5 linked regions of the Homo sapiens genome follow. The protein of the gene in region 4 purifies or fractionates together with the protein of the main gene of each other region. This does not show direct contact. Each region holds a gene or a part of one and is shown on either strand. Other genes may lie near its edges. The genes, in order: VPS50, PPM1E, FOSL2, NEMF and CC2D1B.

The links.
Region 1: the proteins of NEMF (region 4) and VPS50 fractionate together in Homo sapiens (co-fractionation; one large-scale study listed by BioGRID). This does not show direct contact.
Region 2: the proteins of NEMF (region 4) and PPM1E fractionate together in Homo sapiens (co-fractionation; one large-scale study listed by BioGRID). This does not show direct contact.
Region 3: the proteins of NEMF (region 4) and FOSL2 purify together in Homo sapiens (co-immunoprecipitation; one large-scale study listed by IntAct). This does not show direct contact.
Region 5: the proteins of NEMF (region 4) and CC2D1B fractionate together in Homo sapiens (co-fractionation; one large-scale study listed by BioGRID). This does not show direct contact.

What each region holds. Positions count from the first base shown.
Region 1 is NC_000007.14:93,356,296-93,362,719, forward strand, and holds the end of VPS50 (syndetin), read left to right. Parts: intron 1-2,021; coding exon 2,022-2,141; 3' UTR 2,142-4,828; downstream 4,829-6,424.
Region 2 is NC_000017.11:58,971,242-58,977,665, forward strand, and holds part of PPM1E (protein phosphatase 1E), read left to right. Parts: intron 1-890; coding exon 891-1,034; intron 1,035-1,590; coding exon 1,591-1,684; intron 1,685-6,424. UniProt on the Homo sapiens protein: Protein phosphatase that inactivates multifunctional CaM kinases such as CAMK4 and CAMK2. Dephosphorylates and inactivates PAK. May play a role in the inhibition of actin fiber stress breakdown and in morphological changes driven by TNK2/CDC42.
Region 3 is NC_000002.12:28,405,086-28,411,509, forward strand, and holds part of FOSL2 (fos-related antigen 2), read left to right. Parts: intron 1-3,673; coding exon 3,674-3,781; intron 3,782-5,387; coding exon of another isoform or gene 5,388-5,490; intron 5,491-6,424.
Region 4 is NC_000014.9:49,795,789-49,802,212, reverse strand, and holds part of NEMF (ribosome quality control complex subunit NEMF), read left to right. Parts: intron 1-1,516; coding exon 1,517-1,793; intron 1,794-2,534; coding exon 2,535-2,577; intron 2,578-2,688; coding exon 2,689-2,738; intron 2,739-5,884; exon of another isoform or gene 5,885-5,980; intron 5,981-6,268; coding exon 6,269-6,422; intron 6,423-6,424. UniProt on the Homo sapiens protein: Key component of the ribosome quality control complex (RQC), a ribosome-associated complex that mediates the extraction of incompletely synthesized nascent chains from stalled ribosomes as well as their ubiquitin-mediated proteasomal degradation.
Region 5 is NC_000001.11:52,363,406-52,367,391, forward strand, and holds the start of CC2D1B (coiled-coil and C2 domain-containing protein 1B), read right to left. Parts: upstream 2,801-3,986; 5' UTR 2,664-2,800; intron 1,230-2,663; 5' UTR 1,216-1,229; coding exon 1,147-1,215; intron 1-1,146. UniProt on the Homo sapiens protein: Transcription factor that binds specifically to the DRE (dual repressor element) and represses HTR1A gene transcription in neuronal cells.

The sequences.
Region 1 (6,424 bases), on a different chromosome or scaffold from region 4:
TGTGAACTGTTACTGTAATGATCTAGAAATACAGCCAAAGCCAAGACATTAGCTATATTTTTCCTGCAACTGTGTTATAGGAAAAGGCTGAAGTTGATAAATACTGAGACAGATTGAATACAGAAACAATGAAATGATTCATAAGCCATAATCGATTATGTAACTTAAACCTTCTCATACAAACCTTCTCGTACTCCTCAACGATGAAATGGTAACATCCTACACACTGACACGTATTAGTGATGAGTGAAGACATTAATATTTAAATGGCTAAACTTAACTTACATCTTACATTAGATTTTACCTTTAATATAGATTTGATTATTTTTCTTTTGTATGACTATATAGATAACGAAAAATACTATTGTTACGTAGGATGCCGAATTTTTGACACAGTTCAACTCAGTGAGCTTGGTATGGGAAGCTTTTCTGTATATGGCATGTGTTAAAATTATCACCAAATCCTCATTGCTTTGATAACTCTAGGATTTACATTTTCTTAACCTATGAATGTCATGGGTAAAAGCTAAGTCAAGTTTTATTTCATTTGGGTAAGAAAATAATTATTTGTATATACCTGCTCAGACTCATCCTTTCTGGCCTTAACACTGTAAAGAGATAAAATGCATTAGCCTAGAACATTCACATTGGCGTGAATCTTGTGTGAATGTCCCCACTCTTACTCAGTTTCGGATCTTTAGAAGCAAAGTAGGAATGTATGTGTTATTTTTAATGAGTTCGACCAGTAAAGCCAGATTGAGAAAAACTTCACCACGTTTAGCCCCACTGACATTTGATAACCAAAATGTTAAACCTAGATGCAGATAGACTGCTTAATGTTGCTAGAATCCATTTAGTAAAGTAAGCTGTAAACACTTCTGGGTTGGTACTGAGGAAAGGGTTTTGGGAAAGAATACAAAGTAGCCAAGGAGGAAAGGCACAGCTCTATTCGATGCAAGAATGATGCCCGTTTTTTGAATTTCCTCTTTTAATATAGTAGACTGATTTTTTTTTAACTTAGTACTTTGAAAGAGCTTTAACTGATTGATATTTGTAATTCAGTGACATTTCCCCAGCAGCAGCAGGGACTCTTTTCTGTCTTTGAAGGAAACTTCCCACAATGATGAGTCCAGCGATCACTGACGATGGATCCTCACTGAATGCTGAGTGGTTAAATGAGATTACTTACCAGGCGGGGACAGGTGCTCTCAGAGATCAGATACACAAGCTGAGCAGTTTGCCAAGTTTTTAAAATCAATTCTTTCTCCTATTTTGAAATTGTACTATATTTAGTGGTTACCTTCAATAAAGACACATTTTCTTTTCTTATTAGATAATAGTACACAGCTGTCTTTCCCTATCTGAACTCTTGCTATTCAACCTCCAGTACCAAGTCAATCTGCAGAAATTTCTGATGAATCCCTGTTTATTCTCATCCTAGCAATTCAGTATCTAAAATTCAGGAACCAGATGGATTTGGATTGCGAAAGATACTCGTAGTCTTAATTTTATTTGCAGCTCCCTGACTTTGTGATCCTTGTTACCTTATTCATTTGTTGTATCTTAGAAGAGTTGTTCTTCTGTTGTTGGAGATTTTTTTTTTAACTAAAGTGTTTACAAAATGTAGAGGGCCAGAAAAATACTTCATCAGTAGCATTTAAAAAATTTGAAATGTCAGTGTATTTTGATGACTCAATAACAAAGACTATTACAGAAACAAGTGTAAAGTGTGTGATCATCAAAGCAGTAAGAAGCATACGCATGTCAGATTGCTTTGCCATATTAAAACAGATTCTAGTGCTTACTGTTTCAAATGTGTACTATAGTATTCTTATTCTCTCCTATTACAGCTCAGTAAACAATTTGCCTTCCATGTCCCAACTGTAATTTCCACTGTTTTTCACTGGTTTATAATGCTCAGTAACTATCCACTGCACCTGAATATCCGCCTGTTCTTTTGTTGCACTGATCAGATACATTCCTTTTAGGGTACTAAATTTGGATCTTTCTTCTTTGAGCAGGAATATTCAACGAAGCAGCTGACCAATCTGGTGAATGTTTGCCTGGGATCCCATATCAATAAGAAAGCAAGACAAAAACTTCTAGCAGCTATAGATGATATAGACAGACCTAAAAGATAATGAACACAGCTCTCTTTCCTCAATGGCATTGATCCTCACTCAACATATATGACCTGAAAGCCAGTTTTTTTATGCACTTCTGACAACTATCTGCTAAGAAAACTTTGTGCATGTTTTTTTGACTGGAAAGTGGAAAATATTGAAATGTGTGTGGTGTTCTCATGACTTTTATATGCTGTGGTCTCTTCAACTTTTGGTCTCATTTGTTGTAATCTGAAATGATGTTGCCGCCTTGTCATAACAATGGTTATGTGACTACAGTTATACATTTTACAGAAGAATGTACCATAAGTATATAATTAGAAGAACAGTGGCTTAATATATGTATGGGAAGTTTATGGAAAATGAAGTTGGCACTTTTCTACCCTCTGAGCTTGGTTCTTAATAAGCATAATGTGAGGGTGAATATGTAGTATCTCCTAATTATGAGCACTGCATGAGAATTAAAAAACACATGTAAGTAAAATAGTTGAAAAATCAGTATGTTCTCTGTTTTTAAAATGTCAAAGTTTATGTCAGGGTTAATTTAGTTATAACAAAGTGATCATAATGGTGAAATTTAATAAATATACTCTAGTATGATCAGCCTATGTGAGACTACATTTTGATTTTTTGTGTGGCATGCAGATGTCATGAACTATAGTGCAGCTTTTAGTGTGTTCTAATTTTAATTGTTTTATATCCTGAAACCAATGGTGAAAAGTAATTTCATTGAGGGTACCTTTTCAATGCCTGAGTAGCATACAGAATCATGATTATGAGACTTTCTTTTATCTTTCTTTATAAAAATATGTGGTTTTTTTGTTGAAAGTTTTGGTCTCTTTAAATTCAGATTTTGTCTTAGGACAGTAAAACCCAGGTTGACTGACTCAGGAAACAGTTGTCTGCTAGTCACTCATAAATGTACGGTCATATGTTCACTCTTCTTAAATATCCACCTTTTATAACACAAATGTAAAATAGTATCAGTCTAGCCAATGATGAACTCTGGAATCCACTTAGTCTTCAGTAAGTATGTGCTGTTCCTCTAAACTTTGCCCTGAAGCCAGGGATCTTCTCCTAATGTATGTGACATAAAAATCCATTTTCCATGTACTCTTGCCAACTGTCTGATAAGGAATTTTGTGTGTGTTCTTTCTGACTGGAGAGTGGAGGACATCTAAGCTTGTGTGGCATTGGTCCAATGATTGCCATGCATGACCTGTAACATCAACAGCTCACAGAATCCTAAGGAATCATGTGAGAAACAGGCCTTGGGTCTTATGAGTCTTCTGGGACCTAAGGTGATAAAATGGATGGCACAGAATGGCATGTGATCAAGCATGGAGGTGATAAGGAAACAATTGCTACTCTGTGTCCATCAGTCCCTGCGATGTCTGTAAATGCACAGTGTAATGTGAAGCACTTTCAGAATATGTTTGTGTGTGTCTGTATGCTGAGTGTTTTCTTTTCATCCTCTCATGTCGGAGTTCATTTACTGTCAATTTAAAACTTTCCTCTTGTAAAAAGGTATGAGTTTGGTGCCATTATGATTTGGTTGTGGCTAGATTATATACTTGTGAAGTAGATTCTGCCTGTAGCCATTATTTATATGCAGCCACTTGAAGAAAACAAACATGAGATAAGCTTGGTCCTTGAGTTTAAATGGCATATTTAGCTGGGCACATAAAGAGCTAATCAATCTTTTAAAATTTGCAGTTGATGAAGAGCTGCTTATTTTTCTCTTCTACATGGATTTTATAGTTGGTTTCCTTTAATTTCTACTTTAGTTGGCCCTAGATAATATGAACAGGAATCACCTGCCTGGTAGAGCCCAGTGTTTTCCAAGGTAATAGGAATTGATACAAAAGAATTACTTATCTTGTTAGAGACTCGACCATGCAATCTGACAGACCTTTTAACCTACCCTTACTTTGCTTTCTCCATCTTCAAAATGAAATGGTGGATCTTTTTAATGCTTTTTGAAAAAGGTTTTTTTTTTTTTTTTTTTTCATTAAAAGGTAGCTTAATAAGTGCTAGCTAGCATCAAAACAGTAACAGGAGGTTTGAGTCATGAAGTTACCTAATCACAAGAGAGTTACCAGACATTTCTCAAATACTTTATACAGTAATATTGAGTTATAACCATGTAACATTTTATGAAACTAATTTTCAGATAAATACAATTGAAAAGCTGAGAATGTAAATGGAATTATACGTGTTCCAAAAACTATCATTACCAAAAATTTATTATTTTTGAGTCTAAACTTTCCTTAACTTTGACATTTTCCATGAAAGTTTCCTGTAGAATTTACCATGGGAGCATGGTAAATTAGCATTCCCTGAGAAAGAATGATCATTTCTACAAATACATTGTCTTGCATTTAAAAATGCTAGGGGGGCACATAGCAATTCAAATGAACTAGTTTGCTTTGGTTTATAAAACCAACAGAGATTTTGTAAGTTCACTTTAACTAATAAACTCATTTACACAACTTATTAAATGAATTTCTCTTGAAACCAGGGCCATATGGTATTTTATCATATCTTTAAATAAAATTTCGAAATTTCTATTTAGCTGAGTGCTAAAGTGAAACTTTGTTAGATTAAATAGCTTTTTCTTAACTCACCAAAAAGTAGTAAAAGGCTTGTAATTCAATTCACCTTGTAAGCATAGTTGTCTTTTGTAATAAAAAACTAGATCTGAAGATGAATTGATGAATACAAGTTGTGCTCAAAGCACATAGAAGTACAGGGTGGGGGGGATTTCCATATATATACATATATATATATTATATATATATTTCTTTTTGGAATAATTTTGATTCGGATTAGTGGTTAACAAAATGATATTTAGCTTCTGACAATGATTAATGATGAGAATTATTAATAGTCTGGTATAATCTTTGTAAATGTTAAGACTGGTGCAGCTTTCTACAGATTTTTTCTTATTGTGGAAAATATTTGCTCAATTCCTATCATCCACAGCTTTGTAAAGGCTATGAAAAAGTTTAAGCAGCACAGCTCTCACAAGGACAAAACTGTTAGATTTATACAAGAGAACTGTTAGCTGTTTCAAAATGAATGGAGAAAAATAATTCATTTGCTTTGATGTGCTTTTCTTGATTGACATATCCTTTTTGAATATTGCTAAGTATACTTAGATCATTTTTTCAATATGAAAACAAAACCACAGCTAAATATTCTCGTTCACTTAGAAGGATCCCTCTGGAATTTTAGTACTTTATTGATATGATTAATATAGAACTCTTTTTGGTGTTTTTGATAACCATTTTTATAAGTTAATTTAGACATCACTTTTTGATCCCAAGACTGAGAAGACCTGGCCCTGGTGAGGATTTCCAAATTTGCCCTGTAGGTATTTTTTCACACTGAGCTAAGCCTTTCCATCCAGGAAAGGGATTTTCTTCATCAGTAGTTTTTGTTTTACTCTGTTCCTTCCCAGTCCTAGGTACCAAAAGGATTTCTGCTTTAAAGAAAAGGCATTTCCACAATGTGGGCATTTTAATCCAGCTACACCAAATAGCAAGCATGCTAATCTTTGCCCAAAAAGAAAGGACTTTGTAGTCAGGGTGTCCATTTTGACACCACTCAGTACTAGAGCCTACGCTAAAGTGTAGTGACACCATCAGGTAACCACTGGGAGACCATTTTTGCTGGCTACCTGCTATCTGCCTTACCTTACTTCTGTTATCCCTGCTTTCCTAATCACAATCCCACCTTTAAGCACCCAAGCAAGATGCTATCCTTTCCATGAAACTTATCCTTCCCAAGGAGAGATGTTGTGGAGAAAAATCAATAGGGAGTGGTGGTGGTCACAATGGTAGTATAACTTAAACAAGGATGGTGGCAGAAGGCCTCCCTTGAGAGGAAGGGAAGAGGCTTGCCATGCAGATGTCTGAGTGAGTGTAGCAGGCTGAGAGAATGTCAAGTGCAAAGGCCCCAGGGTGGAGGCTGCTGTCAGAGAACAGCAAGGAGGGCAGTGTGGATGGCATAGTAAGCAGAAGAAAGTAAAAGCAGAGAGGATGTGGCAGGAGGGGACACATACGGGGAAGGACTTTGGATTTCACCTTCAGATGGAAGCATTTGAGGGGCTGTGAACCAAGTGATGACCTGATTTGTGACTTAGGGTTTACCAAAACCACTCTGTGTATTTGAGAAAGAGCTAGAGAGGGACAAAAAGCAAAGCAAGGAAACAAGCTAGGAAACTAATTTGGTAAACCATGCGAGGCTAGGATTGCAGTAGCATTGCGGGATATGGTGAGGGGTGGTCAGACGCTGGA
Region 2 (6,424 bases), on a different chromosome or scaffold from region 4:
GAAGACATTTTATTGGTGGGTGAGGATTTATAACAAACTTTCCCTATATAGGGAAAACGAGAAGTTGTTTTTCTCATTGGATACAAGAGACCTTTTACCACCCCTGACGCATTGGTTCTAATTTAGGCCAGGTCCTTAGTAACAGAAAGTCATGCTCATTTGGTGGTGACTCATGTCAAATGGGGATGTCATTTTCGTATAGTAGGACCAAGAGCTTTAAGTACAGTCGTAGCTACTGCAGTGAAATTCCAGGCTGTTAGTTCTTTATGCAATGTTCCAAAAGCAAAGACCCCTAAAAATACTGTAGGAAGGATATTTTTTTAAAGGTATAAGCATCTTAGTACTCCAGGGAACGTAAGCTGTCTCTTGGCCCCTTAGCTTAATTTCCAGAGATTAGAGCATCTGTTGTGTACCAATCAGATGTTTTATATATCATTTTATACAGCTAGGACTCTCCCACTGAACAAATACGATGTCAGTAATGAAATGGAGAGCAGAATATAGAAATTTTTACTCTGAGGATTGGTATAGAGGATTTAGTGCTTGACTGGGAGGAAAAAGAATTTCAATTCTGTCTTATATACTAATAGTTACCTGCCCTTGGGCAAGTCACATAACCTGCCATAGTTTTCTTATCTATATTTAAAGTGGAATTAATAATCATCCTCGCCCTGCATATCACAGATCAGGTGGACTTATGTGTGTATATACACATAAATACATACATGCATATACAAATGCATTGAGACAATGAATTATTATATATGTGTGAAATTCCATTATTAATAGTATAGCTCCCAGCTGAAAAGCTTAATTATAAATTGCTTCTCAATAAGAATGTAGTATCTATTTCTTTTCACTGAGTCTAGTTTTATTTAAACTGTTTTCAGAGCTTAAGATGTGGGACCACAGGAGTGGTGACTTTCATCAGAGGCAACATGCTACATGTGGCCTGGGTGGGTGATTCCCAGGTTATGCTTGTGAGAAAGGGCCAAGCTGTTGAACTAATGAAGCCACACAAACCAGACAGAGAGGTAAGTATGGTCTGTTTTAATAGAGCCCATGCTCTAGTTATTAGTTTAGATTTTCTAGTTATTGATTAGGATTCACTTACTTTTTTTTTTTTTGAGATGGAGTTTCACTCTGTTGCCCAGGCTGGAGTGCAATGGTGTGATCTTGGCTCACTGCAACCTCCGCCTCCTGGGTTCAAGCGATTCTCCTGCCTCAGCCTCCCGAGTAGCTGGGATTACAGGCATGTGCCACCACGCCCAGCTAATTTTTGTATTTTTAGTAGAGACGGGGTTTCACCATGTTGGCCAGGCTGGTCTTGAACTCCTGACTTCAGGTGATCTGCCTGCTTCGGCCTCCCAAAGTACTGGGATTATAGGCGTGAGCCACCGCGCCCGGCCAGGATTCACTTAATTATTACAATTATTGCTATCACATCAGCAACTGTGCCCACCCTCCAATGGAGAAACAAAGAGAACCTTTTCATGAGCTGATGAGTATTATATCTGTTGTTTACTGTTAAAGTAAATGAATAAATCCTGAATCCAGTTATTTGCTTCTTTTTATTGCATTGCTGTTTAGGATGAAAAGCAGAGAATTGAGGCCCTTGGAGGTTGCGTAGTCTGGTTTGGTGCCTGGAGGGTGAATGGAAGTCTGTCGGTTTCCAGAGCTATTGGTAGGAAAAACAAATTTTTGTTTCTCCAAACTGTCCTCTTCTAGCTCATTCTCCTGTATCAACTCTGATACAGGGAACCTGAGATGATAATTTATGTTACCAGAATGCTTATTATTCTTTAAAATAATAATTGGATAACGTCTCTTTTAATTGTTTGATTTAGTTAAACCTGTACATTTATATACTTAAATTCCATTATTGAAAGAGAACTGCCAGGCTCAGTGGCTCATGCCTGTAATCCCAACACTTTGGGAGGCCGAGGCGGGTGTATCACGAGGTCAGGAGTTCAAGACCAGCCTGGCCAACATAGTGAAACCCCATCTCTATTAAAAATACAAAAAATTAGCCAGGCGTGGTGGCGGGCGCCTGTAATCCCAGCTACTTGGGAGGCTGAGGCAGGAATATTGCTTGAACCTGGGAAGCAGAGGTTGCAGCTAGTGGAGATCGCGCCATTGCACGCCAGCCTGGGTGACAGTGTGAGACTGTCTCAAAAAAAAAAAAAAAGAGAACCATATCAAGAAATGCAGAATTTTCTAGTTTCTATACATTTAAAATTTTATGGAAGCCTTTAATCAGTACCCAAATCTGCTTCAAACCACAGTGGTTGGGACAGGCACAGTGGCTCACGCCTGTAATCCCAGCACTTTGGGAGGCTGAAGAGGGTTTGAGCCCAGGAGTTAAAGACCAGCCTGGGCAACATAGTAAGACTTCATCTCTTAAAAAAACAAAAAACAAAAAAAACAAAGGCCGGGCGCAGTGGGTCACGCCTGTATTCCCAGCACTTTGGGAGGCTGAGGTGGGCAGATCATGAGGTCAGGAGATGGAGACCATCCTGGCTAACACGATGAATCCCCGTCTCTACTAAAAATATAAAAAATTAGCTGGGTGTTGTGGCACACGTCTGTAGTCCCAGCTACTTGGGAGGTTGAGGCAGGAGAATCACTTGAATCTGGGAGGCGGAGGTTGCAGTGAGTCGAGATCGCGCCACTGCGCTCCAGGCTGGGCGACAGAGCGAGACTCCATCTCAAAAAAAAAAAAAAAAAAAAAAAAAAAAATTGCTGGGCGTAGTGGCTTGTGCCTGTAGTCCTAGTACACAGGAGGCTGAGGCGGAAGGATTGCTTGAGTCCAGGAGTTTGAGGCTGCAGTGAGCCAAGATTGTGCCACTGCACTCCAGCCTGGGCCAAGGGAGTGAGATCCTGTCTTAAAACAAAAACAAAAAATCATAGTGTTTCTCATTTCATTGCATTTTGGGTCAAATCAGTATTTTTCAGAGAATGGAAGCCTTTCTCCGTATTTTATCCACATTCATTTTGTTTATGCCTCTAAATTATTTCCATGAATTTTAAAATGACATAAATAACAGAATAAGTTGATAGGAAAAGCATTGTGCTTTTTATATGAAAACTACTTTCTGTATGTGGAATACAGTCACCTGTCAGATAACCCTGGAGTTTCAAAGAACCCTATATCCCTGGGACTTAAATTTTTCAAAAGAAGGGAAAGTCAATGAAACTCGGTCTAAAACGTAGAGATTAAACAGCTAAGTTGGCTGGACAAAATACAAGGGTATAAGTTCAAAGAATTAAGCTATTTCTGTCTTTGTCTCACTTTGGGCCCTGGGTTTATTATTTTAGGCTTCATGGCTTAGCTTCACTTCCTGTTTTTTTAAAAAAGAATAAATCAATATGTATATCTATATGGGTGATATGTACATTACATGTATACTGCAGTTTTTAATCTCTGCTTCCCTAAAGAAATGAAGTAATTAGACATGGTTGGAATTCACATCTAGTCTCAAAATTTAGTTAAAAATTACCAAAAATTCCAGAACATGAAGAAAATCTGAAAGGATTTAGCTTTCACCACTGATTTGAGTTCCTCCCACTCTTTGGGAAGGTGCTAGCAAGCTGTGAAGTGGCCCAAATATGAGTAGAAAGCTGAAAGAGAAATAGCTAAAAGAGTCTACAAATACCTCCTGAAAAATTGAGATTTGGCTTGACCTTAGACTGGAGGGAATTATTAGGAACTCTAGAATAAGGCCAAAAAGGGGAAATGTCTCATTTCTAAAATATACCCTTATATGGAATTATTATTATTATTATTGGTGGGGAAAAGTCTTTATCATGCACATTGTAGGTTTAGCAGGACCCACTACCCATCAAATGCTACCCTTGACTGAAAATCACCGAACCAGAGGACTATACTATCTGTGGAACCAATTTACGTTAATGATCATTATATGAGTGCTTGAGTGGCCAGTGAATTAGGTTTACAACTCAAACCAAACACCTATTTCTCCTGATCTGACCTTTGTCAGAGGATTGAGGATCATCTTTAATACTTGTTACAGAACTAACTTAATAGAGAATACCAGCTTCTTCTTCTAAAAGGGAAAACCAAAGCAGGGAAGAATGTCCCTTAATAAGTGACAATCTCAGAGAAAAGGCTGGGTATGGCAGCCAGCACTGTGGAAGGCCAAGGAGGGAGGAATGCCTGAGCCCAGGATTTTGAGACCAACCTGGGCAACATAGTGATACCTCATCTCTATTTTAATAATAAAAAATAAACAATCTAAGAGTGGATAAGGGAGACTTCATACATAGAGTGACTTTTGAGTTGAATGTGGAGGATAATGTGCTGGGAAGGAAATCCCTACACAGGTAGAGGGAAATATAAATACACAGGGGTTTGAAAAGGCATGGCATGTTTTAGGAAAAGCAACAAGTCCAGGAGGTTAGAGCAGAGATGGGAGTGGTAGATTAGCAGTGTTGGTGCCAGATTGCAAAGGGCCTTATGTGCGAGGCTAAGTAGTCTGGACTTTACCAGGTGAATACGCAGAGGGGCCACAGGGTCAGCTTTGTATTTATAAAGATATTTGTATGGAAGCTGGGCTAGAGTAGAAAGAGCCTGGCTGGGAGACATTCATACAGTTTGTTACAGAGATGAGGAGAGCTAAAAAGGAATATGGAGGAGGGTATCAACTGATGAGATGGATTGGTTGGTGGGAAAACCTACTAATCAACAAACAATCTGGCACTGGAAATAGGCAGTAACATAAAGGAGCAAGTGTAGATTTAGTTTCTTGGGCAGTTTGATGGTGAAGGGGAGAAAGGAAATAGTGTGGTGGCTTAAGGCAAAAGCTGATTCAGGAAAGGGTTCCTTTTTATTGTTTCTATTTTTAGGACGAGGAGATTTTAGATTTGAGCATGTTTGTAGGACAAGGAAGAGAGCAAGTAGAGGAGAAATTGAAGACGAGAGAGTAGAGAAGCCAGAGCAGCACAGGCTCACTGTTAGGATGGGAAAAGGACACTGCTTACCCTGAGAAAATGGTAGCTGATATGGGAGAATCTCTACAGATTAAACAGTGCATGTGTGGCAAGGGTGGGAGGGGAATTGAGAAAATTCAAGCCTGATCAACTTGTCTTTGAAGTAGGAAATTAGGCCATTTACCAAAATCCAGTAGCTTAAGTGGATGAGGGAGTTGAAGAATTTGAGAAAGAATTGGAAACCACATGGAATAAAATGGGGGGCTGCAAAAGGACAAGAAAAAGGACTCCTGGGCAGAGTTCAGCTCTACTCAGGAAAGAAATGATACTTATAAAAATGAAAAGGTTTTCAACAGTTTCTCCCCATGAGCCCTTCAGATTTATGATCCAAAGTTGACAGAGGCATGATATGTTTCCTAACATATGGAGAGAAGAGGTTGAAGACAAAAGGATGTTGCCATTTCTACGATGAAATGGATATTCATGCCCTCCTACCAAATTTGGGGGCGAAATGTCATGAATTTGACACCCAACAGTAGAGCAGGTGAAAAGCCAGAACTTTGGCAGCATTTTCTCTGTACAAATCTTTGTATGTTCTGTTCCAAACTAACAGTTGCAGCAGTCTTTTAATTGAAGCACTAAAACAAGATTTTTGGGAACAGTGTGACTCAGATCACATTTATTTTTAGAGGCGGAATTCAAAAAATAATAATGATGATAATCATATAGTCAGGTAGAATAGGGGATGGGAACTTTAGTAAATTGGTGAAGGACACTGAATCCCATATTGGATTTTATTTATTATTTATTTTTAAATATCTTTTAAATTTTTGCATTTTCTGCTTAAATAGATTGAGTTTTAATGAGCTCTAACAGGCTATGGAGGCACCTTAGCATATAAGTGAAGTTGATTAAATCAAAAGCATGCTTGGGAAAGATGGTTTTGACTCCTGTAAGAAATAATGAATGAGGGCTGGGCGCGGTGGCTCACACCTAGAATCCCAGCACTTTGAGAAGCCCAGGTGGGTAGATCACAAGGTCAGGAGTTCAAGACCAGCCTGACCAACATGGTGAAACCCTGTCTCTACTAAAAACACAAAAATTAGCTGGGTATTGTGGTGCGTGCCTGTAATCCCAGCTACTTGGGAGGCTGAGGCAGGAGAATTGCTTGAATCCGGGAGGTGGAGGTTGCAATGAGCTGAGATCACACCACTGCACTCCAGTCTGGGCCACAGTGAGACTCTGTCTCAAAAAAAAAAAAAAAAGAAATAATGAATGAATGAATGGAGAAGAGCCTAGATATGAGTAAGATGAGAGGTTGTGTTTGTGAATGGAAGGAGTGAAATGAACATTTATAATGTCGAAGACTAATTTCTTACCTAATAGATATACTAACTCAGGTAATTATATTAATTATTTGTTGCTCTGTGTATCTAATCATGCAACCTGCTAGATAGGGCATGTGCCCACATTG
Region 3 (6,424 bases), on a different chromosome or scaffold from region 4:
TTAGGCAGCACCTACCTAGTACTCAAGAGGCTCATTGCCTGGATCAGCAGTAAGCCAGGGCAGTGCCAAGTTCCCTGGTCTTGGAAAGGGAAATCAGAATCATGCATAATTCCAGAAAGAATGGGATAAAGCCTCAGAGAGCCCCACCTCTCCCCCATGTCAGATGATACAAGCAAGGGCCAGACATACCTGTGTGTGGCCACTCGGCCAGTGAGTGGGGAAGTCTGGGCTAGATCCCAGTTCCCTGGACCCCCTATGCAGTATTCTTTCTCCAGGGCTATGCCACCCTGAGCCCAGGGAAGGGAAAAATACTTTAGCAGTGGAATCCCTTTTTCAAATGAATTGTTATCCTGGGAAACTATTTCAGTGACAGCCTTGGAACCCTTCCTCATTTCAACCACTGTCCATCTTCACTCTGTGATCCCCAGGGCCACAATGTTCCAATATACGGACCTTTCAAACATGGTTCCCAGTGGATCAGGGTAGATCCAGACCCCAGGATACTTGGAATTACAGGGATCACCACACCAAGAAACTGGAAGCTTTCTCAGGAGCTCTGCTCCTGCGAGGACAAAGCTGGGTCTTGTATCCACTACTTGTTGGTTTGTTCTGTTAATGGCAGAACCACGGTGCAGAGCCACTTGGGGAGGTGTGTCTGCTAGACACTATAATGGATTCACAGCTGCATGTTGGGCCTCTGCTGCTGGAGCAAGTGGCCAGTATCCTCCTCACAGTTGCTTTCTATAATTGCAGTTGTAAATATTGCAGTAGCCATGCTTGTAAGGACTTTTATAAATAGGCTTCCTTCACGGAATCCAAGGTGCAAAGCCTTATACTCACTGATGAGCTGGACTCTTCTGGGATATAAGTGATCCTGAGTGAGAGCCAGGCTTGCCAGGTACTCTTTGGGGCTAGCAGGACCACAAAGCCTGAGGATGTGCTGAATGCTCTCCATTCCCTTTTTTTTTTTTTTTTTTTTTTTCTTTTTGAGATGGAGTCCTGCTCTATCACTCAGGCTAGAATGCAGTGGCACGATCTCGGCTCACTACAACCTCCTCCACCTCCGCGGTTCAAGCAATTCTCCTGCCTCAGCCTCCTGAGTAGCTGGGATTACAGGCATGCACCACCATGCCTGGCTAATTTTTTTTGTACTTTTAGTAGAGATGGAATTTTGCCATGTTGGCTAGGCTGGTCTCGAACTCCTGACCTCAGGTGATCCACCCGCCTCAGCTTCTCAAAGTGTTGGGATTACAGGCGTGAGCCACCGCGCCCGGCCACGCTCTCCATTCTCTTCTGGGCCTACCTCACACCAAATTTAGAAATTTGTATCCAGAGGGACTTTGGAGACCATCTTTTCTCATTTTCCCTTTATACCCATTTTACAGACAAGGAAACGGAGACCCAGAAAGGTGAAGGGCCCTGTTAGAGTCTCACAGTGAATTAGTAGCAGAGCCAGCACTGGAACCCACTTCTCCTGACCTTTGGCCCTGTGGTTTTCCCACCACACCACCTAGGCGTGCCTCATACAATCTGTCTGGAGAGTTTCCTTCCTTTTTTGAGAGGGAGGGAGAGAACAAGGAGCATTGTATCCCACATCAGTTGGGAATTCACACATCTCCCAGCAGCTTTAAGGAAGCCTGGGCAGTGGCAGCCTAGAACTTTGGCTGTTCAGGTTGCCAGCCCTCAGGGCTTTGCTCTGAAGCTTACTCCGGCCGTCCCCAGCCTCCCCCAGCCTCCCTGCTAGGGAGGAGCCTGCCTCCGGAGCCGGCCTGGTGCCTCATAGGCCTCCTCTTGGGAGGTTCCCTCTGTGCCCTGTGGCGGCGACTCTGAGGAGGTGGGGAGGGGAGGGTGTGTGTGGCTTGTGGGTGGGTACATGGTGCTGCTGACACACTCAAGCTGGAACCATGTTGATCTCACCGCCCCTGAACACTTCCTATGTTGACAGCTCCCACAAGTTGCCCCACACCTCACCAGTCAGGGGAGAGACTTCTAGGTCAGTCAGGAGGCCAAAAGTTGTCCAGAAGCAGCCAAGGGGGAAGGAGGGCTTGAACTGGGTCAAGGCCAGCCTCCTTCTTTTCTGCCTCTCATTAGCGAGGGATCTAGGGGGCTTCCTGGGCCTTAAGGGGAGCCCTGGTGGCCCTTTCAGTGGTGAGCCCTAAACCCAGGCCTGCAGCAGGGCCATAAGGCTTTCTTGGCAATTCTGCTGGGCTCAAGACAAGACAGGTTTAGGAGCAGGAAGTATTCAGGGCCTTGGCCAAATGGCCTCATGACCTCAGCCGGGCTGTGGACTTCCCTCTGTGTGACAGGCATGGGATTGTCCTCTCTGGTGCTGTGATGATTGTCCTCTCTTTGCTGTTCAAAACATCACAGCAACAGACCTCCAGGGCTAAAGGGAGCATTGTGGGACTCTGACTTGGACCCAACCAGGACAGTGGCTCTTTCCTTCATGGGGTGACCTGAAGTCCAGGCAGTATCCCTCCTTGGGGTAGCTTCTCCCTGCTCCTCCAAAAGTAGCTTTGATTTTGCCCCCAGGTGTCCCGTGAGAGCTGACCCAGGTCTTATTCCCCTTGAGATCTTCTAAGCTCCTAGTGTAGCACCGGGCAGTTAGTAGGTGTGCAGTCAACGTCTGATAACTGAATGGGTGGGCTTTCCCTTTGTGTTGCTTTCTGCTTTGGCCCACAGCCGTCTCCTTGTGTCACCTCTGCCTGAGAGAGGCATTGGGGTCACAGCTCTGCAGGGCTCTGTAGAACCAGAGCATTTGCCCTGCTCAGTAGAGCAGAGTTCATGCTTTCCGGTATGAGTGACAGATTCCTAACTGTCTCACTGGAAGAAGCTAGATCCTAAGCTCTTTGCAGGGGAATCTTCCTTTGTTTGGTTCGCAGATAAATCCCAAGCCCGTAGAACTTCATCTTGCACATGGAACCAGGTGCTCACTTGTTGAGTGGACAGATATGGTGGGCAGCAGGATTTTACCTGCTGGGGGCTCCTCTTCCTTTTGCATGTCCTGTCCAACTTAGCACTGTACCAGGCATGTGGGGGAGTACCTGGGGTTGAACCGTGAGCAGCTGGCACCCTGGGATTGGCAGAGGAAATCGGGAGTGGAGTGGCACTCTTGGCCCTCCCATCAGCAACATAACATTCCCCCCTGGGTGGTTCTTAACCTGTGTGGGGACTCCAGGCCCAGCTACTTAACAAAATGGGGATAATGAGGCTTGCAGAGCAGGCAGAGTGATGGGAGGAGAAATTAGCCAGGGTTTGGAAGAAGCTGCTTAAGTGGGTGGGGCCACGCCTGGCTGGCAGGAGGGGACTCTTGGAGAAGCATCCCCAGCTCCTTCTCTCTGGCCTGAGCACTGAATCAGGGCTGATGTGATAGGTGCTGCCATCATGCCTGGGCCAGTGAATCTCTGACCCATTGCTGTCCTGTTTAAACATGGACTTTAAACTTGGACATCACCTTCCGGGGCAGATTCAGCTCAAAAGAGCCCTCCCAGGCAGCCAGACATCAGGGATCCACATGTTCTGGGGCCTCTGAGTCCAGCCATGCTCCTCTTGCCCTTCCTTCTCCTTTCTCCATTTCCAGAAGGGCTTCTTGCCTTACTTAAAATACAGTTTTTAAAAAATACTGTGAACCATTGTCTCTGTTCTAACCATGATCCTTGGCTTTGGCCTCTAGCTGTCTCCTGAAGAGGAGGAGAAGCGTCGCATCCGGCGGGAGAGGAACAAGCTGGCTGCAGCCAAGTGCCGGAACCGACGCCGGGAGCTGACAGAGAAGCTGCAGGCGGTGAGGAACTCTGCGTAGGGTGGGAGCACCTCTGGGTGGGCTGGAGTGAGAGCCCCGGGGGTCCTGATCCTCTCTCCCACAGCTGTCTCCTTACCCACAAATGCCCTACAGATGAGTCAGTGGAGATAGAGCTTTCCTTCCTTTGGACACATGGGTCAGCATTGTGTTGATTGAAAAGAGAGAGAGAGAGGGAGGTGGCGTTTAGCACCAGCCAGGGCCCAGAGGGAAGAAATGAACAACCTTCTGTGGGGGTGCTAGCCACGGTTTTTACGCAGCACCTGAGTGTTCTCTGCTCACAGAACTGTGGGGGCTCCTGGGTGAGGGATGATGGAGGGTGGGAGCCAGGGCAGGTCCAGACCTGCCCCATCCAGGGCTGCTTCCCGAGGTTCCAGCCACTCCCATGCCTGCCGCCATCAGGAGTGGCCCAGCCTGGCCTAAGCACTCTGGGTTGGGCCAGGGAGAAGTCTTGATGGAGATAGGTCACGTGGCAGCAGGGTTGTATTTTCTTGGGGTTTTCTCATTTCCTTTATGGGCAGGCGGGTTCCCCACCTCTATCATGAACTCAGAGCTGTGGCCATGGTACCGCGTGCTGCTCTTGTGAGTCACTCTCCCGTGCCGCCTAATTGCCCAGACCTGGGGACCCGCAGCCCTGCCCTTCCCTCTGTTAAGCTTGACCTGACCAACGTCACGTAACTCCCTTCAGAGCCTGGCCCTGCAGGAAGGGCCGTGTGCTGTGTGGAGGAAGCCCCGAGCCAGGGTTGACTCTCCCCAGTGGAATGCTTTCAGAGTGAGGAGATGAGAGAGACTCTGTCAGTGGTCCTCACAGTGACTGCCCAGGATGGGGCTTTGGAAAACATCCCCTCACACTTTTTTTGTTATTATAATTTTTTTGAGATGGAGTTTCGCTCTTGTCGCCCAGGCTGGAGTGCAGTGGGACGATCTCAGCTCACTGCAACCTCTGCCTCTTGGGTTCAAGCCATTCTCCTGCCTCAGCCTCCCAACTAGCGGGGATTACAGGTGCCTGCCACCATGCCCGGCTAATTTTTGTATTTTTAATAGAGACAGGGTTTCACCATGTTGGCTAGGCTGGTCTCGAACTCCTGACCTCGGGTGATCTGCCTGCCTTGGCCTCTCAGAGTGCTGGGATTACAGGCGTGAGCCACCACGCCTGGCCCATCCCCTCACTTGAGTTAATGTTTCCAGGTACCATCCACCCACTTAGGCTTGTCTTTCTCTGTCCTGCAGCCCTCACTCTGGGGTGTTGAATGAATTGAATTGCGTGAATTCTGTGATGCCTGTAGTAATGGCCCTCGGAGGTGTTAGAGCCGGGGAGGATGAGTGGGAATTCTTCATTCCCAGGTGAGGCAGATCCACAATCCACTTCCTCAGCGGGCCCTCCCACCACTAACCTTTCTGTGATTGGCACTTCAAGGAGCTGTGCCCCATGTGGCGCTCCTCACCACCCGCCCCGGAATAGCCCTGCCCCCTGAGGCTCCTCTACTTTCCTTCCCTCCTCCCAGAGGCCTCACACCCTACTCCCCTGCCTCCCCCACCTCCCCCGCCCTCTGACCCAGCCACCCAGGCCCCTGAGCCACATCCTCCACAGGAAGCCTCTCAGAAGCTCATGACGTTCGTCAGACCCTTGAGACAGACGGAAACTGTTTTTCACTCCGGAATATGCTGTCCTCTGCTGAACGAAGCCCTTGCCCGTATGTCCTCACTGATGAACAGGAATCCATGTTAGGGAAAACGTGGGGAGGAGGCTGGTGACACACACCTCTTCCCCTCCCACAGCGGCCCCTCCACGTGCACTTGCTCGCTTCTGCTTCTCTGGCTGGGGATGAAAGAAGGGGGCTGAGGTCCTTGCGGGGTGACCCTGGCATCCTCACAGGCCCTCTCGGGCTGTCACGTTACTTCTGTGTCAAGCGTGGTGGCTGAACCAAATGTTCTCTGAGGGTTCTGGGAGTCCTGAAATATGTGCTTAAGAAATTGGAGCAAAAGGCCAGGCGCCGTGGCTCATGCCTGTAATCCCAGCACTTTGGGAGGCTGAGGCGGGTGGATCACCTGAGGTCAGAAGTTCAAGACCAGCCTGGTCGATGTGGTGAAACCCCATCTCTATGAAAAATACAAAATTAGCCGGGTGTGGTGGCAGGTGCCTGTAGTCTCAGCTACTCGGGAGGCTGAGACTGGAGAATAGCTTGAACCCGGGAGGCAGAGGCTGCAGTGAGCCAAGGTCATGCCACTGCACTCCAGCCTGGGTAAGACAGAGTGAGACTCTGTCTCAAAAAAAAAAAAAAGAAAGAAATTGGAGTGAAAAAAGGGAGGAGGAGAGGCTGTGATAATCCCACAGGGATTTGCTGAGCACTTCTGAGAAGCCAGGCACTGTTCTAGGTGCTAGGGATACAGGAGTGTGCATGACAAAGTCTCCACTCTCTAGCAGCCTAGGGCTTAGCGTTTATCCATCCACAGGTGGGCTGGCATGGGGTTGGGGAGTAAGAGAAGGAGAGAGGTGGGTAGAGCTGTGTTCCGTACCCCCTTCTCCATGCAGATCTCTGCAGTACTCACCCCTCAGGGGTACCGAGGGGGCAGTCCTGGCACCAAGGCCATAGAACATAGACCCTGGAGTCAGATACATTGGGAATC
Region 4 (6,424 bases):
ACTTTTGGGAGTCCGAGGCAGGTGGATTGCTAGAGCTCAGGAGTTTGAGACCAGCCTGGGCAACATGGCAAAACCATCTCTACCAAAAAAATCACCCAGGCGTTGTGAGCGCCTATAGTCCCAGCTACTGAAGAGGCTGAGGTAGGAGGATTGCTTGAACCTGGGAGGCAGAGGTTACAGTGAGCCTAGATCACGCCACTGCCACTGCACTCCAGCCTGGGCCACAGAATGAGACCCTGTCTCAAAAAAAAAAAAAAAGTATTTAATTGGATCCATACTAACATACTTTAATGTATGTTTATATAGTGAGACTTCAGTATTTAATGGGTAATGCATAAATGTGTTTAACAAAGGTAGACTCGGGTAAATGTGCATTAGCATTTAGTTTTGGGTTTAGGAATTACAAGTGATAGATGAATTTATAAAGTGCAGTTTCTCATATGAAAATTTGGCTTGATTTAATAAAATATTTGTTTCAAGTAGAGAGCAATTATAGTTGCTGGAATAAATTCATCTGCCTACCTGAGGAAACTAGGGAAAATATTCCCACTAAACTACTTTTGTAGTTATTCTCTCTGCTAAGGTCATTCCTCTTTACAGGTAATATTGCATTGTTTCATTTACTATTACTGTTGTGCTGCAAGATTTTGTTGATTGAGGCTCACCATTTCCCTGGGACTGTATAAAGTGCCTTATTTACATTCTTTTCTTTTTTTTTTTCCCCCCGAGAGGGAGTCTCAGTCTGTCGCCAGGCTGGAGTGCAGTGGCACAATCTCGGCTCACTGCAACCTCTGCCGCCCAGGTTCTAGCAATTCTTCTGCCTCAGCCTCCCGAGTAGCTAGGATTACAGGCGCCTGCCACCACGCCTGGCTAATTTTTGTATTTTTAGTAGAGACGGGGTTTCACCATCTTGGCCAGGCTGGTCTTGTACTCCTGACCTTGTGATCCACCCACCTCGGCCTCCCAGAGTGCTAGGATTACAGGCATGAGCCACTGCACCTGGCCTATTTACATTATTTTCTATTCTCACAACCATCCTTGTCAGATGAGTGGTGGCATCTCATTTTACAGGTGAGGCAGTAGACCCTGTTACTACTATTAGACAGTGTTCCTTTTGCAGAAGAATGAGCACCTGCTATGTGGGCGTTATATAATACGTATTTAAGTTTTTATGTGCAAATTATAATAAAAGCAGCAAAAGTTATGCAACTAATTTTGCTGTCTTGGTTTTTGGAAATACCCAACTAAGGCAGAGTTGTGGTTTTCATTGTTGAAAGGGTAGCAATGTCCAAGAAATTTATTGTGGTAAAGGATCTTGGAGATCATTTAGTTCAACCTATTCATGATACAGGTTATTCTTTTGTCTAAGAGTACCCTTTGGGAATGATCAGACACTTTTCTGTTGATTTTTTGGAGAAATATGGGAGAAACAGTGGAATATTTTTATGACATTTTTAGGAAATCACCTGGCTTGGTTGGTAGTCCCACACTGACTTTCCTTATGATAATTCTACAGATGGAGGTGACACGAGCAGTGATGAGGATAAAGAAGAACATGAAACTCCTGTGGAAGTAGAACTCATGACTCAGGTTGACCAAGAGGATATCACTCTTCAGAGTGGCAGAGATGAACTAAATGAGGAGCTCATTCAGGAAGAAAGCTCTGAAGACGAAGGAGAATATGAAGAGGTTAGAAAAGATCAGGATTCTGTTGGTGAAATGAAGGATGAAGGGGAAGAGACATTAAATTATCCTGATACTACCATTGACTTGTCTCACCTTCAACCCCAAAGGTAATTAAAAAATAAAATTTTACATATTATTGTGTAAGCTGAGAATGATGATGAGGTAATCCTTACAAAGATAATACCAAGATTGACATCAGTACTTTTACACTCCATTGTCTTAATACTTTTTCAACATTTGATTGGGTCTCTCTGCAAAGAAATTCCCAGGACCAGGGTAGAAAAATACAGTGCATATAGAGTGGCCAAACTAGATCCAAATAGAAACAAGTAAATGGTTATAAATGCTAAAAACATAACAAAGGCAATTCCATCAAAGAAATGTGTTTTAGTCTATATAATGTTTTGCAGATCATCAGGTGAATAGTCCATAGTTATAAATGCATAATTAACTTAGGGGTAATTCAGAACAGTCTAGGAGTCAGACAGACCAGTATTGGGTCTTAGGGTGCGTCCTTGGGAAAATTACTTTGTGCTTAAGCTTCAGTTTCCTTCTTGGTGAAAACAGAATGGTATCCCTTTCATAGGGATTTGGTGAAGGTTTCATGCGTGTATACCATCTGGCAGTGCCTGACACACAGTAAGTTTTCAATACACGTCACCTATTTAAAAATGTATATGGAAGTGTGGAGAGAGGAGCAATTTGGTTGTATGTTTTTCTCACTTCACCAAATTTGAAAATTTGTTGGATTGCCAGTACTTAAGAGTATGATATGGGAATGTTTTGGGACTTTGTAAATGCATGTCTTTTACAGGCTAGTAGAGACTCCCTTGTGTTTATTTTCATAGGTCCATCCAGAAATTGGCTTCAAAAGAGGAATCTTCTAATTCTGTAAGCTATTTTCAGTTTTATGAAGAACATCCGATTCTCAGTGAATAATTTTCTACTTTTCAAAAAAGTTAATAGTGATATTTGCATTTGCCTGTTTTTTTGTTTTAATAGAGTGACAGTAAATCACAGAGCCGGAGACATTTGTCAGCCAAGGAAAGAAGGTAAACACATCTGTGTTAATTAACTAAAAAGCATGTTTTTCTTTTTTTTTTAATTGATAGCTCAGCTACCACAGATTACTTAGCTGTTTAAAGACTTCCTTCATTAAATTTACCAAGATTTAGCACAAATGTTTAGTTTTTAATATTAAGCTCTAATACATTTTTCTGTTTAAGGGCCCTAATCTATAACTATAATCAATGAAATAGACCTAGTAGAGTAAGTCCTCACTTAACATTTTCCTTTTTTTTTTTTTTTTTTTTTTTTTTGAAACAGGGTCTCGCTTTGTTGCCCAGGCTAGAGTGCTATGGCGCAGTCATGGCTCACTGCAGCCTCAAACTCCCAGGCTCAGGCAGTCTCCTGCTTCAGCCTCCTGAGTAGCTGGGACTACAGGCGTGTGCCACTACAAAAATTTTTATAGTTTTTGTAGAGACAGGGTTTCATCATGTTGCCCAGGCTGGTCTTAAACCCCTGGGCTCAAGTGATCCTCCCACCTTGGCTGCCCAAAGTGCTGGGATTACAGACATGAGCCATTGTGCCCGGCCTTCACTTAACATTTTCTTTTTTTTTGAGATGGAGTCTCGCTCTGTCGCCCAGGCTGGAGTGCAGTGGCATGATCTCGGCTCACTGCAAGCCCCACCTCCCGGGTTCACGCCGTTCTCCTGCCTCAGCCTCCCGAGTAGCTGGGACTAGAGGCGCCCACCACCATGCCCGGCTAATTTTTTGTATTTTTAGTAGAGACGGGGTTTCACCGTGTTAGCCAGGATAGTCTCGATCTTCTGACCTCGTGATCACCCGCTTTGGCCTCCGAAAGTGCTGGGATTATAGGCATAAGCCACCGCGCCTGGCCCACTTAACATTTTCAATAGGTTCTTGGAAACTTGGACTTAAGGGAAACAGTGTGTAATGAAACCAGTTTTGCCATGGGCTAATTGATATAAACAAGAGTTAAGTTCCTCTGGCATATTTTTGGTCACAAAACCATCACCAAGCTTCTAAATAAAGACTGAAAACTCTTCTAATATTAAACGTTAAAATAAATGTAAACTGTATGTATATTTAAGAAAGATGAATGAAAGCGAGCAAGATAATTATTTACCCAATTTTTGGTAAATCAATGAGTGATGGCAGTTGTAGTGGTAGTGGGTTAAATCAAGGATTATTTGCAAAGTGAAAACTATAGAGTACCTCCTACTACCATGAGGTTCAAAAACAAAAATGTGGCACATTCATTAAACACTTTCATACTACATTGTTGATTGTTATACATTTGTATGACTATAGTTTATGAATTTTTGACAATCATTTTTATTAAGTCATTCATTCATTCATTCATTCGTTTTTCAACCGCTTATTCCAGTTAAGGGTCATTGGTGGCTAGAGCCTATCCTGGCAGGTCAGGGCAAAAGGCCAGAACCAACCTAGAACAGGATGTCATTCTGTTGCAGGGCACACATACCTGCACTCATTCATGCTGGGATAATTTACACACACCAGTTAACCTGACATGCGCATTTTGGGATGTGAGAGAAAACCTGAGTACCTGGTGAAAACCCACAAAGACATGGGGAGAACATGTAAACTCTGCACAGATGGTAGCCGTGGCCAGGAATCAATTTTGTTCTCATCAAAGTTATAACACAATGATGTTGAATGAAATGATGTTATTTGAGGACTAGCTCTAATAAGACCTTTTATTACATAAACATGTACAATAATGATTTCAGTGTATTACATAGACTAGTTCTAGGGTGATATTGTCAGGAATAAATATGAATACCTGAAATTAGGAAAGTTTTATGTAAGGCAGAATAGTTGATTTTTTGTTTTTTGTTTTTTTTGAGACGGAGTCTCGCTCTGTGGCCCAGGCTGGAGCGCAGTGGCTGCGATCTCGGCTCACTGCAAGCTCTGCCTCCCAGATTCATGCTATTCTCCTGCCTTAGCCTCCCGAGTAGCTGGGACTACAGGCACCCACCACCACGCCCGGCTAATTTTGTTTTTGTATTTTTAGTAGAGATGGGGTTTCACCGTGTTAGGCAGGATTGTCTCGATCTTCTGACCTCGCGATCCACCCGCCTTGGCCTCCCAAAGTGCTGGATTACAGGTGTGAGCCACCGCGCCTGGCCGATTTTTTTTTTTTTTTTAATAGCAGGTCTCAGGAAGCAAGTAGAAGCAAGGGAAGGGCGGAAGGGAAGGGAACAACTACTGTAGGGTGGGAAAGACTAAGCAAACTAAAGCACTCCAGGAAGAGGCCCTAGAACAGAATGGACAATAAAGCCTTTTCATTTGAGAAACATAATCATTGAACAATTACAGAGAATTCTGAGCACATAGCCCTGTGCTAGATACTTACTGAGTATACAAAGAGGTGAAGTATAAAGCTCATGCCTTCAAGAAGCTTTTGAGTCCTGGATTCAGGAAGTAGTCATAAATATGTAAATAGTGTCTGAAAGTGATAAAGTAGTTCAAGAGTAAGAGATTGCTGTGAGTTCAGATGTTTGGGGAAATAACATCAGAAGTATACCTTGAAAGATATGTTAGCAGTTAAGTAAATGAAGGAGGGAGACTCCAAGGAGAATTAGCATTAACAAAGGGGAGTGCTTCTTTGGGGTAATATGCATAGTGCTTTGGGGAAATGATAAATAGACTGAGTTGGAAGGAAGAGAAAGTTTGTGTATTAAATGGTAGATAATATGATTGGAGAAGTAAATTTGGACTAAAAGTGGAGTACTTAAAAGCTAAGGATTTTGGACTATACCCTTTAAAGTGATACGAAGAGAATGTGACATAGGCAAATGATTAAGGAAGATTAATATAGAAGTTAATGGCCGGATGTGGTGGCTCACGCCTATAATCCCAGCACTTTGGGAGGCCAAGGCGAATAGATCACCTGAGGTCAGAAGTTTGAGACCAGCCTGACCAACATGGTGAAACCCCATATCTACTAAAAATACAAAGTTAACTGGGTGTGGTGGCACAAACTCCGTTTTAAAAAAAAAAAATTCAGAGTATGTAGACTCTGGAGGAAGTCTGGGTGGGATGTAATGAGGACCTGAACTAAGACGTTGGCATTGGGAACAGAAAGAAGAATACCACAGTAATAAAATTTACCCTTCCTTCTTAACCTGTGTATTTTTAATCCATTTAGTCAACCAACCGGTCAACAGATGTTTTATTGAATGCCTAAGACCTGCCAATGCTATGTTGGTACAAAGACTACAAATCCCAGTGCCTGGCCATCAAGGTGATCAGGGGCAAAATGTGCCTAGTGAGTAAGGATGAGTCAGGGGTGACAATATGTTGAGCTTGGATGATGGAAAGAAAGATAAATCCATGAGAGATGAAAAACTTGCATCTTTTTCCCACATGATGATTTTAAGCATCTTTGTATTTTCTAACTTGGTGATTATCAAGTGAAGCAGAAGCCATGACCATTTATATACTGTATATGTGCCTTCCCCATGGAACTTTTTTAGGGCACTAAGAATTTCAAATTCTAAGAATGAAATGTTTTCATGTCTTTTTTATTCAGGGAAATGAAAAAGAAAAAACTTCCAAGTGACTCAGGAGATTTAGAAGCGTTAGAGGGAAAGGATAAAGAAAAAGAAAGTACTGTACACATTGAAACTCATCAGAACACAAGCAAAAATGTTGCGGCTGTGCAGCCAATGAAACGAGGACAAAAGGT
Region 5 (3,986 bases), on a different chromosome or scaffold from region 4:
AAAAAAAGAAGGTCCTATTTTTTTAAACTCTGGTAAAACACATACAACATGAAATTTACCATCTTAACCACTGTTAAGGGTGAGTTCAATGGCATAAGGACATTCACAATATCCTGCTACCATCGCCATCATCCATCCACAGAACTGTTTTCATGTTGTGAAACAAACTTTCTACCCATTAAACATTAACCCCCCTTCCTCCCCTCCTTCCAGCCTCTGGTAAGCACCATTCTTCTGTTTCCATGAATATGACTACTCTAGGTAGAGGTACATCCTTTTTTTTTTTTTTTTCTGAGACAGAGTCTGGCTCTGTCGCCCAGGCTAGAGTGCAGTGGCACTATCTTGGCTCACTGCAACCTCTGCCTCCCGGGTCTAAGCGATTCTCCTGCCTCAGCCTCCCAAGAAGCTGGGAATACAGGCACATGCCACCACGCCCAGCTAATTTTTGTATTTTTAGTAGAGATGGGGTTTCACTATGTTGGCCAGGCTGGTCTCAAACTCCTGACCTCAGGTGATCCACCCACCTCGGCCTCCCAAAGTGCTGGGATTACAGGCGTGATCCACGGCACCCAGCTTACATTCTGTTTTTATCCCAATGTTCAGATGAAACTGAGACAGTCTTGTGAGACAATCAGAATTTAAAACAAGCTCTTTGCGACTTGAGTCTATGCCCTTTACCCCACCTCCTTTCTTACCTGCCTTTTTAAAGACAGTAAAAATGGACTAAGAAGTCTCAAGATGTAGGCCCAGAAGAAATAAAGGAAGAAAATTGGAGAGGAGACCCCCCTGTTCTTCCACTTGGGGCACAGCCATCTGTCCCTAGGCAGTGAAGTCCTCCCACTGACTACAGCCCTCATGCCCTGGCATCCCTGGCTAACAAGCAAAGTTGTGACCCTATCTAAGGAACCTTTGAGAGCACTGAGGTCCCATCAGAACATCCTAAACTTTGGTGATTCCTGAACCCTCTCCCCACTTGTATGTGGAAGAGACTAGTAGGAGGGTGTCTAAGGGCTCTGCCACCTCCAGGAGGCACTGCTCCAAGTCTCTGAACTAATGGGGGAACTACATGTGATCCAGTTTGCCTAAGTTGTCTAGGGACCCCCATCCCCAAACCGACCCAGTAGCCTAGAAGGCTAAGTTCCATACCTGCTTGGCAGCGGCCACCCCTTGGCCTCTGGCCTGAGGGCCCTTCCGAGGTCTTGGCCCTGGCATCATGGCAGCCTAGATACCTATGGAAGAGTTACAGAGATTCAGGCTGGAGTAGCCCATAAGCCACGCCCCCAACAGTGCTACCCGTGGTAAGGTGTGGATAGTAAACTCCCAAAGAAGGCAATGCTGAACACCAAAGTATGGGTTACCTTTAATTAAAGCACTGAAGCAGCACAGGCCATGGGAGGGATGGGGATCACCTGTTAATGGGTTTACTGAGGAATGTTCTGAACGGACTCAAATTTAAAAAGCACATTCAGGGAAGTACTCTAGGTTCAGGGTGGGTGGAAGGCTGGGTAGAATTCAGAAAGGCTCTAAAGCTGTGCTTATGGAAGCCACAGCTGGCTATTTAATTTTAAATTTCAATGAATTAAAATGAAATAAAGCTAAAAATCCAGTCCATCAGCCACAACAGACACATTCCAAGTGCTTAACAGCCATATGTGGTGAGGGGCTATGACCAGACAGCACACACACAGAACATTTTCATCATCCAAGGACATGTCATCAAAGTTCCATCTCACAGCTGAGCTCTGGAGAAAGCTGGCTCAGCATTCTGATTCCCATAAAGATCTCACAGTTATTCACAGGACCTCCTGTGTCAGACCTTGCGCTGGGCACTGGGAGCGCAGAAATGAACCTAAGACGGTCTCAGCCTTCAATGACCATTTACAGGGTGGAGGTGGACTACACGGGGTTGCCCCAGGGGCCATGGGTGCCCTGAGGTGACCCCTTCTTCAGCCCTGGGAGAAAAGGCTCCTCCTTCGAGGCGGTGACGCCTGAGCTGAGTCACGCAAAGAAGTTGGGGGAAAGAGGGAAATAGGATTCCAAGACGAGGGAACACTTGACGGCTCTGAAGTGGGGAGCAGCTTGGCCTGTACAATGGAACCTGAGGCCTGGTATGACTGGGGCATAAGCGGTGAGGCCTGAATGCACAAGCCGAGGTGGAAATGTGAGCAAGCGGCAGAATATGAAAACCTCTAAGCCGAAAAGCGTTTGGGCATTATTCTGAGGGCGCTGGGAAAGAAGTGGCGGGATCGTATCGGTGTTTCAGAAACCCCATTCTGGCACCAAAGGGGAGGTGCACAGAAGGTAGGGGGAAAAGGCAGGAAGCCGGCGCATCTCGCCACAGCGCTGGCGGGGAGACCAGCTGACGGGCGTGGAGGCGGCGGGGAGCGGGCGGAGGAGCTGGCGGGCGCTCCGGGGGACTCTGAGTGTCAGATTTCGGGAGTGACTCCGGCTCAGGTGAAAGCGAGGCCAGACACTCCAAGGCTGCGGCCCCGATGACACAGCCAGGCCTCACGGAAGGTGGGCAACGGAGTCCGTAGGGGGAGGCGACACGGGACCCCCACTCCCGCGCTGCGGGACGCGCCGCCCTGCCCCGCCCGCGCCGCCTCCATCTACCCCCGCGGTCCCCAGAACTCCCCACGCCGAGGGGCGGGGACGCGGCATACCTCGCGGTGAATCCGAGCCAAACCCCGGCCTTGTCTCACCCGGCACCGCCCTGGGCTCCCGCGGGCCCTGGGCCGCAGCGGTAGCGACAGGAAGCGCCAGCAGGGGAGGTGGCTCGCGCGCAACACGTGACCCCACTGGCCGGCGGCCGGCAGTGCGCATGTGCACGGCTACGCGGGCGGGGGGCTCCAACAGGTGACACCGGGGCGGGGTTCGCAGCGCGCAGGCGCGTTCGGGTAGGTAGCGCAGGACAGGAACTCTGGGCGGTTCCGCCGGGGCGTCCACCGGCCGGCTCCAATGAGGTCGCTGCGCCCAGCCCTCGCCCACTTGCAGCCTCTCCACCGAACCTCCTCCCTCACTCAGCCCGAGGCGCTGGGCGCTCGCTCGCTCGCTGGACCTACCCCGCCTCCAGCCCTCGCCCCGCCCCACCGAGCAAGAGGGCGGGGCCTACCCAAGCTCCGCCCTGGAAGAGAGACAGGGGCGGGGCTCACCTGCTTGTCCATGTCCTTTAAGCCTGGGGAAATGGAAATGGGGCCCACCATATGTTTCTTAATAATTCAGCACCTGAAAGTATCCTTTTCCGGTCCGTTGAAAACTTCAGACAGGCAGAGCTCGCTGCACATCTTAAATACTTTACAGAGTCTAACACTAAGTTCTCACTCGCCTACCCTGCTGTGCAATCAAATGGCATGGAGGATATTAAGGAGAGAAACGGAGTATACCCGTTTTCTGCCAAGCTTGTGTCAGTCACTTTTCATAATGGAGCTTATACCAGTTCTCAATCCTGCAAGATGGACATCATCTCTAGAAGAAACGGAGGCTCAGAGAGAATTATTTGCCCAGGGAAATACAAAACCAACCTCTTTAGCATCAGTAAATATGCTCTAGTCTAGTTTTCTAAGGAAAGCACGTTTCTCCCTGCGGCTTGCAGAGTCCAGTTAACAAGAGATTGAGCTCAGGAGTCCGAGACCAGCCTGGGCAACATGGCGAAACCCTGTCTCTACAAAAAATTACAAATATTAGCCGGGTGTGGTGGTGCGTGCCTGTAGTCCTACCTACTGAGAGGCCGAGGCAGGAGAATCGCTGTGGCCCCGGAGGTCCAAGCTGCAATGAGCTGTCAACTGCACTCCAACCCGGGTGACAAGGTGAGACCCTGTCTCAAACTAAAACAAACAAAAAAACCGAGAGCGGAGTAATGGGGAAGTGGCCAGATTCCCATCTAAAGTAACCACTTCGATTTTGGGGGGAAAGAGAACGGCTTAAAAGGAAAATTTGATATGGGAAGCATGCAAGAATTGTACAGAGTACAACGTCTGTGTGTCTTG